Homo sapiens: one gene and its partners. The protein of the gene in region 1 binds, or shares a complex with, the protein of each later gene. Each region holds a gene or a part of one and is shown in the gene's direction. Other genes may lie near its edges.

Region 1 (3,745 bases):
CCAAGATCATGCTACTACACTCCAGCCTGGGTGACAAAGTGAGATTCTGTCGAAAGAAAGAGGAAAGAAAGAAGGAAGGAAGGAAGGAAGGAAAGAAAGAGAAAGAAAGAAAGAAAAAGAAAGAAAGAAAGAAAATTAGCCGGTGTGGTGGCTTATGCCTATAGTCCCAGCTACTTGAGAGGCTAGGTTGGAAGGATCACTTGAGCCCAGGAGTTTCAGACTGCAATCCCGCCTGGGCGACAGAGTAAGACCCCTATCTAAAAAAAAAAAAAAAAACAAAAAACAAAACAAACAAAAAAAAAAACGAATGAACAAATAAAAAGAAAAAAGATAGGTAAACATAAAGAAAAATTAACTCATCATTCAATCATTCATTCATTGTTGCCACCGACATTAGTAGAAATTAATTAAATGCCTACTATGTGGCTGTTCTGGGGCAGAGGAGAAGCACCAAACATTTAAGAGTATCTCTGAAGGGGTGGAATTACCACGCATTCAAACAGCCCTTCCACCAATGTTTACTGAGCATCTACATGCCAACAGTGCTGGGGCACTGGGAATGCAGCAGTGAACAAAGACAGAAATCCATGTTGTCATGGGGCTGACATTCCAGCAGAGGAGACAACCAACAAGCAATAACTACAATTAGGAGTGAGAAATAAGAACAAAGCAGACAGAGTTTGGTAGTATGTGAGAGGGATGTTTGCTGCTTTCCTTAGGGTGAGCGAGGGAATTAGTTCACAGAGAAAGTGACATCTGTGTAAAGCCCTGAAAAAAGGGAGGGAGAGATAAGGATACCTGGGGGAAGAGTATGTTCCAGGCAGAGGAACAACCAGTGCAAAGACTGTGAGGTGAGAGCGCACCTGACAAGAGTTCAGGAACAGCATGAAGGCTGGAGTCCAGTGAATAAGATCCAGGAGGAGAGATGTCTGGCCGGGCGCAGTGGCTCACGCCTGCAATCCCAGCACTTTGGGAGGCCGAGGCAGGAGTATAGTTTGAGCCCAGGAGTTCGAGACCAGCCTGGCCAACACAACAAAACTCTCTCTTTAAAAATAAAAGAAAAAGGCCAGCTTGGTGGCTCACACGTGTAATCCCAGCACTCTGGGAGGCCGAGGCGGATAGATCACCTGAGGTCAGGAGTTCGACCTGGCCAACATGGTGAAACGCTGTCTCTACTAAAAATACAAAAAATTAGCTGGGTGTGGTGGTGGACGCCTGTAATTCCAGCTACTCAGGAGGCTGAGGCAGGAGAATCTCTTGAACCCGGGAGGCGGAGGTTGCAGTGAGCTGAGATCGCGCCATTGCACTCCAGCCTGGGCAACAAGAGCGAAACTCTATCTCAAGACAAATAAATAAGTAAAAATAAAATTTAAAAAAATTTTTAAAGAAGATGTCTGCTGTTTGTTTTCAATATTTTGACCAATTACTTCGTAAAAACTTATTTAAAAATTGAAGAGCAAACAGTCTCAGGTTCCCGGGCTCAGACAGACCAGCGTTCAAAACTCATTACCTTCTTTCTATGATGCTAAGCCAGCTATTTCACCCTCTGAACCTCTGTTTCTTTATCTGTAAAATGGGTATTAATGATATTATACCACAGGGTTGTATATGCAGCGAGAAAATGCAAGTAAAACACTTATCCCGGTGCCTGCCTCCTAGTAAGTGCTTAAGAACTGTTTCTGCCCATTAACTCATTACTTTCTCCCAGCCCCTAACTCCTTCTGGGGGGGAAGTTAGAAAATCGGTATCACACGAAAACAGTCATTTCCCCTTTAAGGACCTCAGTGGGCCGGGAGCCAGCCTTCCCGCACCTTTTCCAAAATTTCCAATCCCCGCTTGGCATTTTCTGCCCGAAGGTCTCCGATTGGACGCTCTGTACCAATCGGAGGCTGGAGCGGGCCCTGAGAGGCGCCCGACTCCGCCCCCGCACTGGCCCTGCCCACTGCCCGGTCAGCCTCGTTGCTATGGGGACTGGTGGGCGGTGAGGGGGGAAAGCCCCGGATGTTCGTTGGGGATTCAACATGGCGGCGGGAGTGTCCGCGGTGGTGGCGGTGCAAGAGAGCTGAGGGAGGCGCGAGGGCGCGGAGTTCCAGGTCGAGCAGTTAGGCCGCGAGCGACTGCGGCGCCGAGCCGGTAGGATAAGGGGTCCGGCCAGGGGCTTGCGGTGGGCCGGGCGCTGGCGGCGGGACGGCGTTTCCGCGAGGAGGGGGGCGGGGCCGCCGGGGTCAAAGGTCACTGGTGGAGGGAAGGGTCGCGTCCGAGGGGTCGGGGGTTAACGCAGACTGGAGGGAGTTGTAGTGGAGGTCGGAGATCAAACCAGCGAAGGGGGCGTGGCGAAGGGGAGTGCAAAGTTTGAAATTCGAAGTGGGGGCGCGTTCGAGGGGTTCTGGGCGAGTCTCAAAAAAGGCAGGGTCAAAGTTAATAATTTGAGGGAAGGCTGCCCCCACGAGGGTCAGAGGTCACAGCCCCAGGGGCGCCAGGTTGGAGGTTTAAAGCTGCCCCTAGCGGAGCAGATGAATGAGTTTTAGGTTCGGGGGCGTCTTTTAGGGGTTCAAAGCTGGGGCGTGCCTAGAAGGTACAAAGGTGAGAATCTGACAGCGGGGCAGCTGTTTCCCAGAGTCAAAAATTAAAACCCAAGGAGGGCGTATTGCGGGGGACGGGGGGGGGGGGGGGGGCCGGGTCAGAGATGCTTCCTGGTGACAGGAGAAGGGGGAACCCTCCCACAAATAATAATGGCAAACACTCATGAAACACTATGGGCTAGACCCTCTTTTTAACGCTTTACTTGTATGAGCTTATTCAGTCCTCACTATAGTCTTAGGGGGTCTTAACCTGGTATTAAGAGGTTAAGTGATTTGCACAAGGTCACCCGATGCATAAGTTGTGCGCTGGGATTCTAACTCCGGAGTTCTGGCCCAGAGCCCTGCTCTGGCCGACCGCCTCTCAAATCATCATAATGTCGGTTAATGTTTAATGAGGGCTCACACTGTGCTCCACGCCCTGTGTGCCCGGTCGTATTTCACTCCTGCTGCAATCTTGTGAAGTGAGTGCTCAAGATGAACCTACTTTACAGACGGGAAAAATGAGGCTCAGAAGCTTCTGCTGAAGGCAGAGTTAGAATCGAAGCTGGGCCTGGGTGATTCCAGGGCTCCTGCCCCTGGTCGCCACATTGTCCGCTGCCAGCCATTAGGTCTCTCCTGGAAGCAGGGGGCTGGGCAGGGCTGGGCCACTCCCTGGGCGGATCGGATTGTCTGCTTGGTTTCCTTGGAAGGGTGTGATCTGGCAGGGAAGATTCCTGTGAGCCTATGGGAGTAGGGTGTTTGTAGGTGGTCTGGAGTCCGAGCAAGGGAGTCCGACGGGCTTCTGACTGGGGAGAGTGTCCCTGGGTGGTACCCTGGGCAGAGCGGGGTGTTCACTGTTCTTAAAACCCTAAGCTCTCACTGTGGTCCTTAGTCACTCCCACCTCACTTCTTATGGCTCTGCCCATTTCTCCCCAGCCCCTTTACTGTTCTCCAACTCCAGGCCCATGCCTCCCGCCCGGTCTTTGACCTTCCTGTTCCTTCTGCTGGGAATCCTTTCCCCACCCTGCCCTCTCTCACTGACGGGTCGCTCACTCTCAGCTGGCCCGGGACCACCCTGGCTCGCCTTGCTGCAGGCTCTTTTTCTCTCATCTGACCAGCCCTTACCTCCCTCCTTACCTTAATTATTAGGGTGCATGGTGGAATTGCTCTGTGGGGTTCCTTGC
Region 2 (3,745 bases), on another chromosome or scaffold:
CCAGAACTTTAGGGGTGCCCTAACCTCCCACTTTCTCCCAGACACATCAGCAAGATTCTGGAGACTTAACTCTCACTTTCATTGCTTTAACCCCAAGGCAGGCAAGTTTCCATGAGACAAGGTTATACTCACAGGTGTGTACTCCCCACAGTCTTTCAATAATTAAATGCCTTTGGCTCTTGGTCCAGGTCATTCCTCTGTAGTTTATTCAGTTTCTGACCCGCAGATGCCTCTGTGGAGCACAAGTCCAGCAAGTTGTAGCCCTAGAAGTACAGGGTTTCAGCTGTAACTTGAAGCAAGCTACAGGTAGCTTCAAGCATGTCACTGTTGTGGGAGCTTCAAGCAAATAGTAATAGGAGATGCAAGCAAGTTTCTCTCTGGGCCTCAGAAGGGAGGGATGGCATCTGCCCCTCAAAGCTCCATTCACCTCTGCATTCTTGATGGCCCCACGGGTGGCTTCGGGCAGGCATAGTCCCCACTCTTATCCTATCTGCAGGCTCAAATCGTTCCCAGCCCACGGCAGAAAGATGTGGAGATGCCTCTGGCCACCACTTTGGGGATCACCATCAAGGGGTCCCTTTAGTAAGCCAGGCTGGCTCTCCCTGCGCACCCCGATGAGGTAGACCTCATTCCCCCGTCTAGGAGGTGGATATGCTAAGGAGAGCGCGGGCCCTGCTCTAGGCCTGGCCCCACTCATCAGCTGTGTGAGCATGACTAAATCCACCAACCCCGCCAACCCTGTTTTCTCTCTGGTAAAATGAGGACACTTCCTTCTAGGGCATTTAAAAGAGATGCTTGTGGAAAAGTCCAGCACAGTGCCTGGTACATAGTAGGCACTTGGCAACTAATAATTATTAGTGTTTTGTTTTGCTTTTTTTTTCTTTTTGAGACAAGATCTCACTCTGTCGTCCAGGCTGGAGTGCAGTGACACGATCACGGCTCACTGCAACCTCCCCCTCCCGGGCTCAAGCCATCCTCCCACCTCAGCCTTCTGAGTAGCTGGGACCACTGGCATGTGCCAAAATGCCCGGCTAATTTTTTGTACTTTTGGTAGAGATGGGGTTTTGCCATGTTGTCCAGGTTGGTCTCGAACTCCTGGCCTCAAGTGATCCTCCCAGTCTGCCCACCTCAGCCTCCCAAAGGGCTGGAATTACAGGTGTGAGCCACTACGCCCATCCTATTCGTGTTATCCTTTAACCAATTTCAGTGTCCAAGTGGATTGAATCTTTACTCACCTTGAGAGACTCCCTGTACCTCGAGACCTTGGAACTTAGCCTTGGAGTTGTTTTTGTCAATCTCTCCCCTTTGTCTCTTCCTACTCTTCCTACCCCACAGAGATGGAAGGTAAGGTGGAGCTAGCCCAAGCTGTCTGCAGCTGGCCTGGTCCCCCGAGTGTCTTCTGATCCTGCTCCCCTAGCTATCCTCAGCTCACCTATCCAGAAGCCTCTCCTGTTGAGCCTCTTGGCTAATGCTGAGTCCTGGGTGTCTGTTGTCAAGTCCTTTGAAACAGCAGTTTGCTGCCACGCAGGACTTTCTGCAGGACTTATAGAGCAGGATCTATCCTCCTGCTCAGTCCCATACCCTCTCCCCTCTCCCCGTGTCCCTAGATGTCACAGCATCTGAGGGGAGGCCTTTTAGAACCAGTAAAAATCTCAAAGTAATAGGGATCTGTATGTTTAGAAACAGATATTTATAATGTTCTCAAAAAATGAACATCGTGGGCCGGGCGCAGTGGCTCACGCCTGTAATCCCAACATTTTGGGAAGCCAAGGCGGGTGGATCACTTCAGGTCAGCAGTTTGAGACCAGCCTGGCCAACACAGTGAAACCCCATCTCCGTCTCTACCAAAACTACAAAAATTAGCCAGGCATGGTGACAGGCACCTGTAATCCCAGCTATTTGAGAGGCTGAGATGGGAAAATCGCTTGCACCTGGGAGGCAGAGGCTGCAGTGAGCCGAGATGGTGCCACTGCACTCCAGCCTGGGTGACAGAGAGACTCTGTCTCAAACAACAACAACAACAACAAAAACATTGTTACCTGAAGATTGTCCAGTAAATCAAGTGAATGATGACATTTTAAAAATTAGCTTTAATGACTGGGCGCAGTAGCTCACACCTGTAATCCCAGCACTTTGGGAGGCCGAAGTGGGCAGATCACGAGGTCAGGAGATGGAGACCATCCTGGCCAACATGGTGAAACCCCATCTCTACTAAAAATACAAAAATTAGCTGCGTGTGGTGGCGCGCACCTGTAATCCCAGCTACTCTGGAGGCTGAGGCAGGAGAATGGCTTGAACCCGGGAGGTGGAGATTGCAGTGAGCTGAGTGCATGCCACCGCACTCCAGCCTGGCAACAGAGCGAGACTCCACCTCAAAAAAAAAAAAAAAAGCTTTATTCTAGCCGAAAGAATAGAATTAAGAATAGTAATAGCTGAAAGTGGTTTTTAACCCATTCTGAGCTTCAGAATGATCTGAGGAGCCTTTTGAAAAATAAAGACATTTGGACCCAGATCCAGTGAGTCTGTTTGTGGGGTGGGCCGGGCCTCTGTCTGTTCAGGGAGTAAGGGAGAACCCACCCCTGAGTAAAACTTTACAACGGCATTTCATCAGGGCACACTGGCCACCTGTCTGTGCGTTTTCATAGAATCCACAGTGACTTGCTCTCAGGGCCCTGATGGGTGATTCAGACCCCACATGGCTCTCCTCAGGGGGGTGAGGAGGAGAGGGTGGGGGAGTCAGGCTCTAGTTCCTGAATCAGACCAAGCCTCATTCTTGCTTTCCTTCCATCCCAGCCCTGTGGGCAGCTGACAGGCATCCCTCCCGCACCATCTGCCACCCATCCAGGCCCACCTTGAGCCTGTTTTCAAGGCAATCTGTGAGAAGCTCCTGAGTGAGAAACACTTCCTTACATATTCTGTTTAAAAAGAAAAGGTCTGTCCATGTGCATGGTGCATTTCATCAGTTGGAGACTCTTCTTTAAGACCTCAGGGGCATGGGGGGATTGTGAAAGATGCAGCTATGACAAGCACTCACAGAGGAGGAATTGGGGCACGGGGGACTCGGGGGTGTCTGGAGAGCAAGCTCTGGAGTCAGCTGAGCCCTTTGCCAGCAGGCACAGAGCCCTCTCTATGGCGGGCCAGGTGGGTGCCCTTCACCCGGCACCCTGTGAGAGTGCCATTGTGCCTGGCACAGAGGCAGCGCCCAGGAAATGTTTTTCCACCAAATGACTTTTTAAGTGAGCAGAGAAGAGGCATCTGCAGCGGGGCTGGGAAGAGGATAGGACAGAAGAGAAAAGAAAGGGAGAATAAGAACTGTGTGAACTCAAGGAAGCCCTATAGCTTTCCGCAGGGGCCCATTTCCTCAGGGTCATGGGGATGCAAAGAGATAATGAATGTTAAAGAATTCACCTGTCAAATGTGAGCTCACCTGTGCATTCTCTTCTCCATGAAGCATGGGAGCTTGCTGGTTCTGAGGTCTCTTCCTACTCCGGCCATCTTGGTGGTTCTACCTGAGTGCGTGGAGAGGGCTGGAGTTCGCAGCTGCTCTTCATCAAGGGCCCTGCCCCTGGGTGAATGGGAGACCCTGGCTTGCCGCAGCCATGATATCCCTTCTCTTCCTTCTGCCCAGGCATCTTTTGAAGTATCATTGGAGGCCCGAAGCTGTCCCAGCAGACACACGGAGCATGTGTTTGCCCTGCGGCCGGTGGGATTCCGGGACAGCCTGGAGGTGGGGGTCACCTACAAC
Region 3 (3,745 bases), on another chromosome or scaffold:
TTCTTTGATTTAATGATAGTGTTTGTCTTCATTTCACAGAAGTTATTCATCTCTTATTTTTGGTGAGACAACTAGAACAATTTCTGCTTTATGAAACATGCAAATAAAAATTAGGAGCAATGTTAAATTTAACTAACTTGGTTTAATGCTAGTCAACCAGTAATTCTTCAGTACACTTAATATGATGGGAAAAACAGCATGCTGCATTGTTGCAAATTTTACATTTTCTTTAATAAAATGTATTTGTTTACGGTGTCAGTAGGGATTAAAAATCATAATTCTAAATTTAAAGTATTTAAATTATAGAAAAATGATTCCATTATTTTGGTAATGGAACAGAGAAATACAAATATAGAAACGTTTTTATCCTTTAGATCTTCTAATGGTGCAGATATTTCTTAACCAATTTCAAGAGTGCCTTATTCAAAAACAAAAAACCTGCACATAGAAAAAGCAAACATGTTTTTTTAAAAAAAGCCCTGTAAAAGTGGTTAATCTGTCGTCTGATTTTCAATGTATGACTTTAATCAATTGCATATTCCTTAATTCTGCAAATGACAATTAAAATTAGGAATCAGTACCTGAAAACGCCATTTATACTTTTGAGTTTATATTAGAAACACGGTTTTGATGAAATACCTTTTTCGGTTCAATCTTTTTGAATTGTGACCACAACCAATAGCTACACTTAGATTCTACAGAATTAGTAGGAAAGATACAAATGAGAAGGTCTTTCTAGACAATGGATCTCACTGAACATCATCTTAGTGTGTAGACTTTTTCCACTGCAGTGGCCCACATGTGCTATGGTGACAGACGGCAGTTGGCATTACCACTTATATAGTAAAATATCTTTAAGACAAAAATAAAAGTTATTTAAAGAATACGCTGGCCCTGAAACATGAGCTGTGCCTTAAACTACATATCCTACCTCCATGAGTGAATGAATAAGTGGGTTTTCCGCCTGCATCTATGTGTTAAGACCTATTGTTTGCTTGTATTAATTGTAGTCCTGGGATAAAAGCACAGAGGTAACTTTCACTGCTGCTTTTTGTACTCTCTCCAATGTTTTGGAGGAAAAATAAGCACAAACAATAGCCTAGAGAAACTGAATCGATCATACTTGTTGCAGCTTCGACAAACGTCAATTTTGCTGCATTAGAATGGGAAACATTTTTCAGTCTATTGAAATGAATTACAAACGTTTTTAAATAGAAAATTAGTTAAAAAATTGGAGGCTGCTTAATCGATAGCTTTCTCTATAAACATACTTGGATTTCACAAATAAGTAATACCGTAAAAATCTTCTTCTCCAAAGAAAAATCCCCACAAATAAATCTATTGATACCTAGTGACAAGTGGAACCAGATAAAAATGGAATCTATAAGAATTAACCTAATTGACAGCGCTCTGGAGCTAATCCATTTCCATTAGTTATTTGTTCACAGTAGGTACTCCTAAGGACTTGTTGAATTGCGGGCTTGGCGCCCGTTCTACGGAGAGTTCACAGCCTTCGTGAGTGGGGACAGAAGGCGGCTCGGCCCGGTGATTCAGGTCGAAATTCAAGCTGAACAGCCTGCTGAGAGGTGGGATCCACCATCCGGACAGTGGGGGGCTTTGGGGGTGCTGTGAGACTGGGCTGCGACCCAGGTCCAGCAGGGAGTGTGCGGCACAGACCACAAGGTCGGCGAGGCCCCCTAACCCGCGCCCGGCCGGGAACCCGCAGACCAGCGACGGGGCAGCTGCGGGGCCAGGAGCGCCCCAAGACGGGCGGGCGCTGAACCCGAGCCCCTGCCGCCGCCCTGGCCCCGAACTTCCGCCCTCCCAGGACCTGTCCCGGCCGCCCCGAGCGGTACTCGAAGGCCGGGGCCGAGATGCCACCTTCCGCAGGCCGCGGGAAAGGCGCGCCGAGTCCTGCAGCTGCTCTCCCGGTTCGGGAAACGCGCGGGGCGGGGGCGTCGGGCTTGGGACAGGGGAGGATACCAGGGCCACCTTCCCCAACCCAGGCCGCGGGGGCCCGGCCTCCCCGATGCAGACCACAGCGCCCTCACGGGCTGCCCTCAGGCCGCGCAGCGGGCAGCCGCCAGCCGTCACCCCGGGGAGCGTCCGTGGGGTGCCCAGGCACCCCACCCCGGCCCGGGGCGCTCAGACGGCAGCAGACTGCTGGGCGGCGCGGGGACTACTTTCCACCGCCCCCTCGCGCCCCGCCCCTTGTCCTCGCGCGGCGGAACGCTCCGCGCTGCGCCGGTGGCGGCAGGATACAGCGGCTTCTGCGCGACTTATAAGAGCTCCTTGTGCGGCGCCATTTTAAGCCTCTCGGTCTGTGGCAGCAGCGTTGGCCCGGCCCCGGGAGCGGAGAGCGAGGGGAGGCGGAGACGGAGGAAGGTCTGAGGAGCAGCTTCAGTCCCCGCCGAGCCGCCACCGCAGGTCGAGGACGGTCGGACTCCCGCGGCGGGAGGAGCCTGTTCCCCTGAGGTGCTTGGGCGCTCCTTTCCTTATCCTTCCGGGGCTGCTCCCGCTTCCTCTCGGAGCCAAACTTCGTAGCAGGCGCGCGGTCCGGGCGGCGGGCTGGGCGCAGCCGGGAGGCCTGGGGTTGGGAGCGGGGAGCTCAGGTGGGGGACGGTGAGGGTGGGCCGCGCCCGGGGCGCGGAGGGCGGCGGCCGGGCCCGGGTTCCGGTCGCGCTGCCTCTCTGGGGCCCTGGGGGCATCGCTTGCGGGGAGGGGGCGCCGCGGGGGCGCGTACAGGAGCCCGGATGGCAGGCGGGGTGGGGGTGGGGGTGGGGGTCTGTGGTTTCCGTCCGGGGCTCTGGCCTTGGCCGAGTTTGGGGGAGGGACCCGGTGCCTCGGGATGCGCCGGGCCCTGGGTGGGGGGCGGGGTGGGGACGGGGGGCTCCGCCTTCTCAGCTCTTGCGGCGAGTTGGGGTTCGGGCGCTGAGGCAGAGACGCCACCCTAAGTCCCATCAGTCCTGGGGATCGGACCAGTGGACTTTCTCTTAAGATTTCCTCTTTCATTCTTAAGAATAGAAGTGTTATTATTTTTTTTAATGCCCTGGCTATGTGAGTTTGAATCGAAGCAACTTTAAACCTTAGAGCAACTAAACTCTAAGTGCAGCGGGTGCGATGCGTCAGTAGGGTGAGCACATAAAAAATCCATGTCTTGCACCTGTATTTTAGCGTACTATGCAGGTGAGTGAAAGCAGTGGATAATGTACTGGGAGTCTTATGGATTTATGGTAGTGGGTATGAGACCCTGGTGAAATAAGGGGGTGGAGGAAGGCGAAGGTGATGGCTTACTGTTTCTTACCAAGTGAACTGCAGGATTCAGCCTCTGACTCAGACCGCTTCGAGAATTTTGTTCGTAGAAATAATTTAAATTTATTCAAATAGTTTGATGGCAGCTAAAATTGAATTATAGAGCACGTTTTCTTTTCAGCGGAGTGAATTTTTCCTTCGCTCCAAAGCTGGCCAAATGGAATTCAAGCATTGCAACTTCTTTCAGTGTTTTGTCTGGAGAGAGGACTTTGAACCGAGACTTTTCGAAGTTAAGTTCCTATAGCCTGCTTCTGAATCTGCCAAGCTTGAAAGCTTTGGCAGTTGGGTGTATGTAGTTGTTGCCTTCGTTCTCTTCCCTTTTGGAGGGAGCGTTGTCTCCTACTTTGTATCTTCCAGACATCTGTGGTCTTCCCCCCACCCCTCGAGTTTGTGAGTGGTGAATGAAGAAAGACTAGGCTGCTGGTATGCAGAG

The links.
Region 2: the proteins of PAK4 (region 1) and ITGB5 are in contact, whole or in part, in a crystal structure (PDB 7S46), measured with the Homo sapiens proteins. Residues at the interface, in NP_001014831.1 of Homo sapiens: Gly330, Ser331, Gln358, Arg359, Leu362, Thr404, Lys442, Ser443, Asp444, Asp458, Phe461, Leu475, Val476, Gly477, Thr478, Pro479, Tyr480, Trp481, Met482, Glu507, Glu512, Phe516, Asn517, Glu518, Pro519, Pro520, Met524; in NP_002204.2 of Homo sapiens: Ser762, Arg763, Ala764, Arg765, Tyr766, Glu767, Met768, Ala769, Ser770.
Region 3: the proteins of PAK4 (region 1) and CTNNB1 are in contact, whole or in part, in a crystal structure (PDB 6WLX), measured with the Homo sapiens proteins. Residues at the interface, in NP_001014831.1 of Homo sapiens: Ser331, Gln358, Thr404, Asp440, Lys442, Ser443, Asp444, Phe461, Leu475, Val476, Gly477, Thr478, Pro479, Tyr480, Trp481, Met482, Glu507, Phe516; in NP_001091679.1 of Homo sapiens: Lys672, Arg673, Leu674, Ser675, Val676.

The regions. Positions count from the first base shown.
Region 1 is NC_000019.10:39,123,787-39,127,531, forward strand, and holds the start of PAK4 (serine/threonine-protein kinase PAK 4), read left to right. Parts: upstream 1-1,999; 5' UTR 2,000-2,133; intron 2,134-3,745. UniProt on the Homo sapiens protein: Serine/threonine-protein kinase that plays a role in a variety of different signaling pathways including cytoskeleton regulation, cell adhesion turnover, cell migration, growth, proliferation or cell survival.
Region 2 is NC_000003.12:124,796,701-124,800,445, reverse strand, and holds part of ITGB5 (integrin beta-5 isoform a precursor), read left to right. Parts: intron 1-3,628; coding exon 3,629-3,745.
Region 3 is NC_000003.12:41,197,196-41,200,940, forward strand, and holds the start of CTNNB1 (catenin beta-1), read left to right. Parts: upstream 1-2,309; 5' UTR 2,310-2,475; intron 2,476-2,526; exon of another isoform or gene 2,527-2,612; intron 2,613-2,947; exon of another isoform or gene 2,948-3,186; intron 3,187-3,195; exon of another isoform or gene 3,196-3,745. UniProt on the Homo sapiens protein: Key downstream component of the canonical Wnt signaling pathway.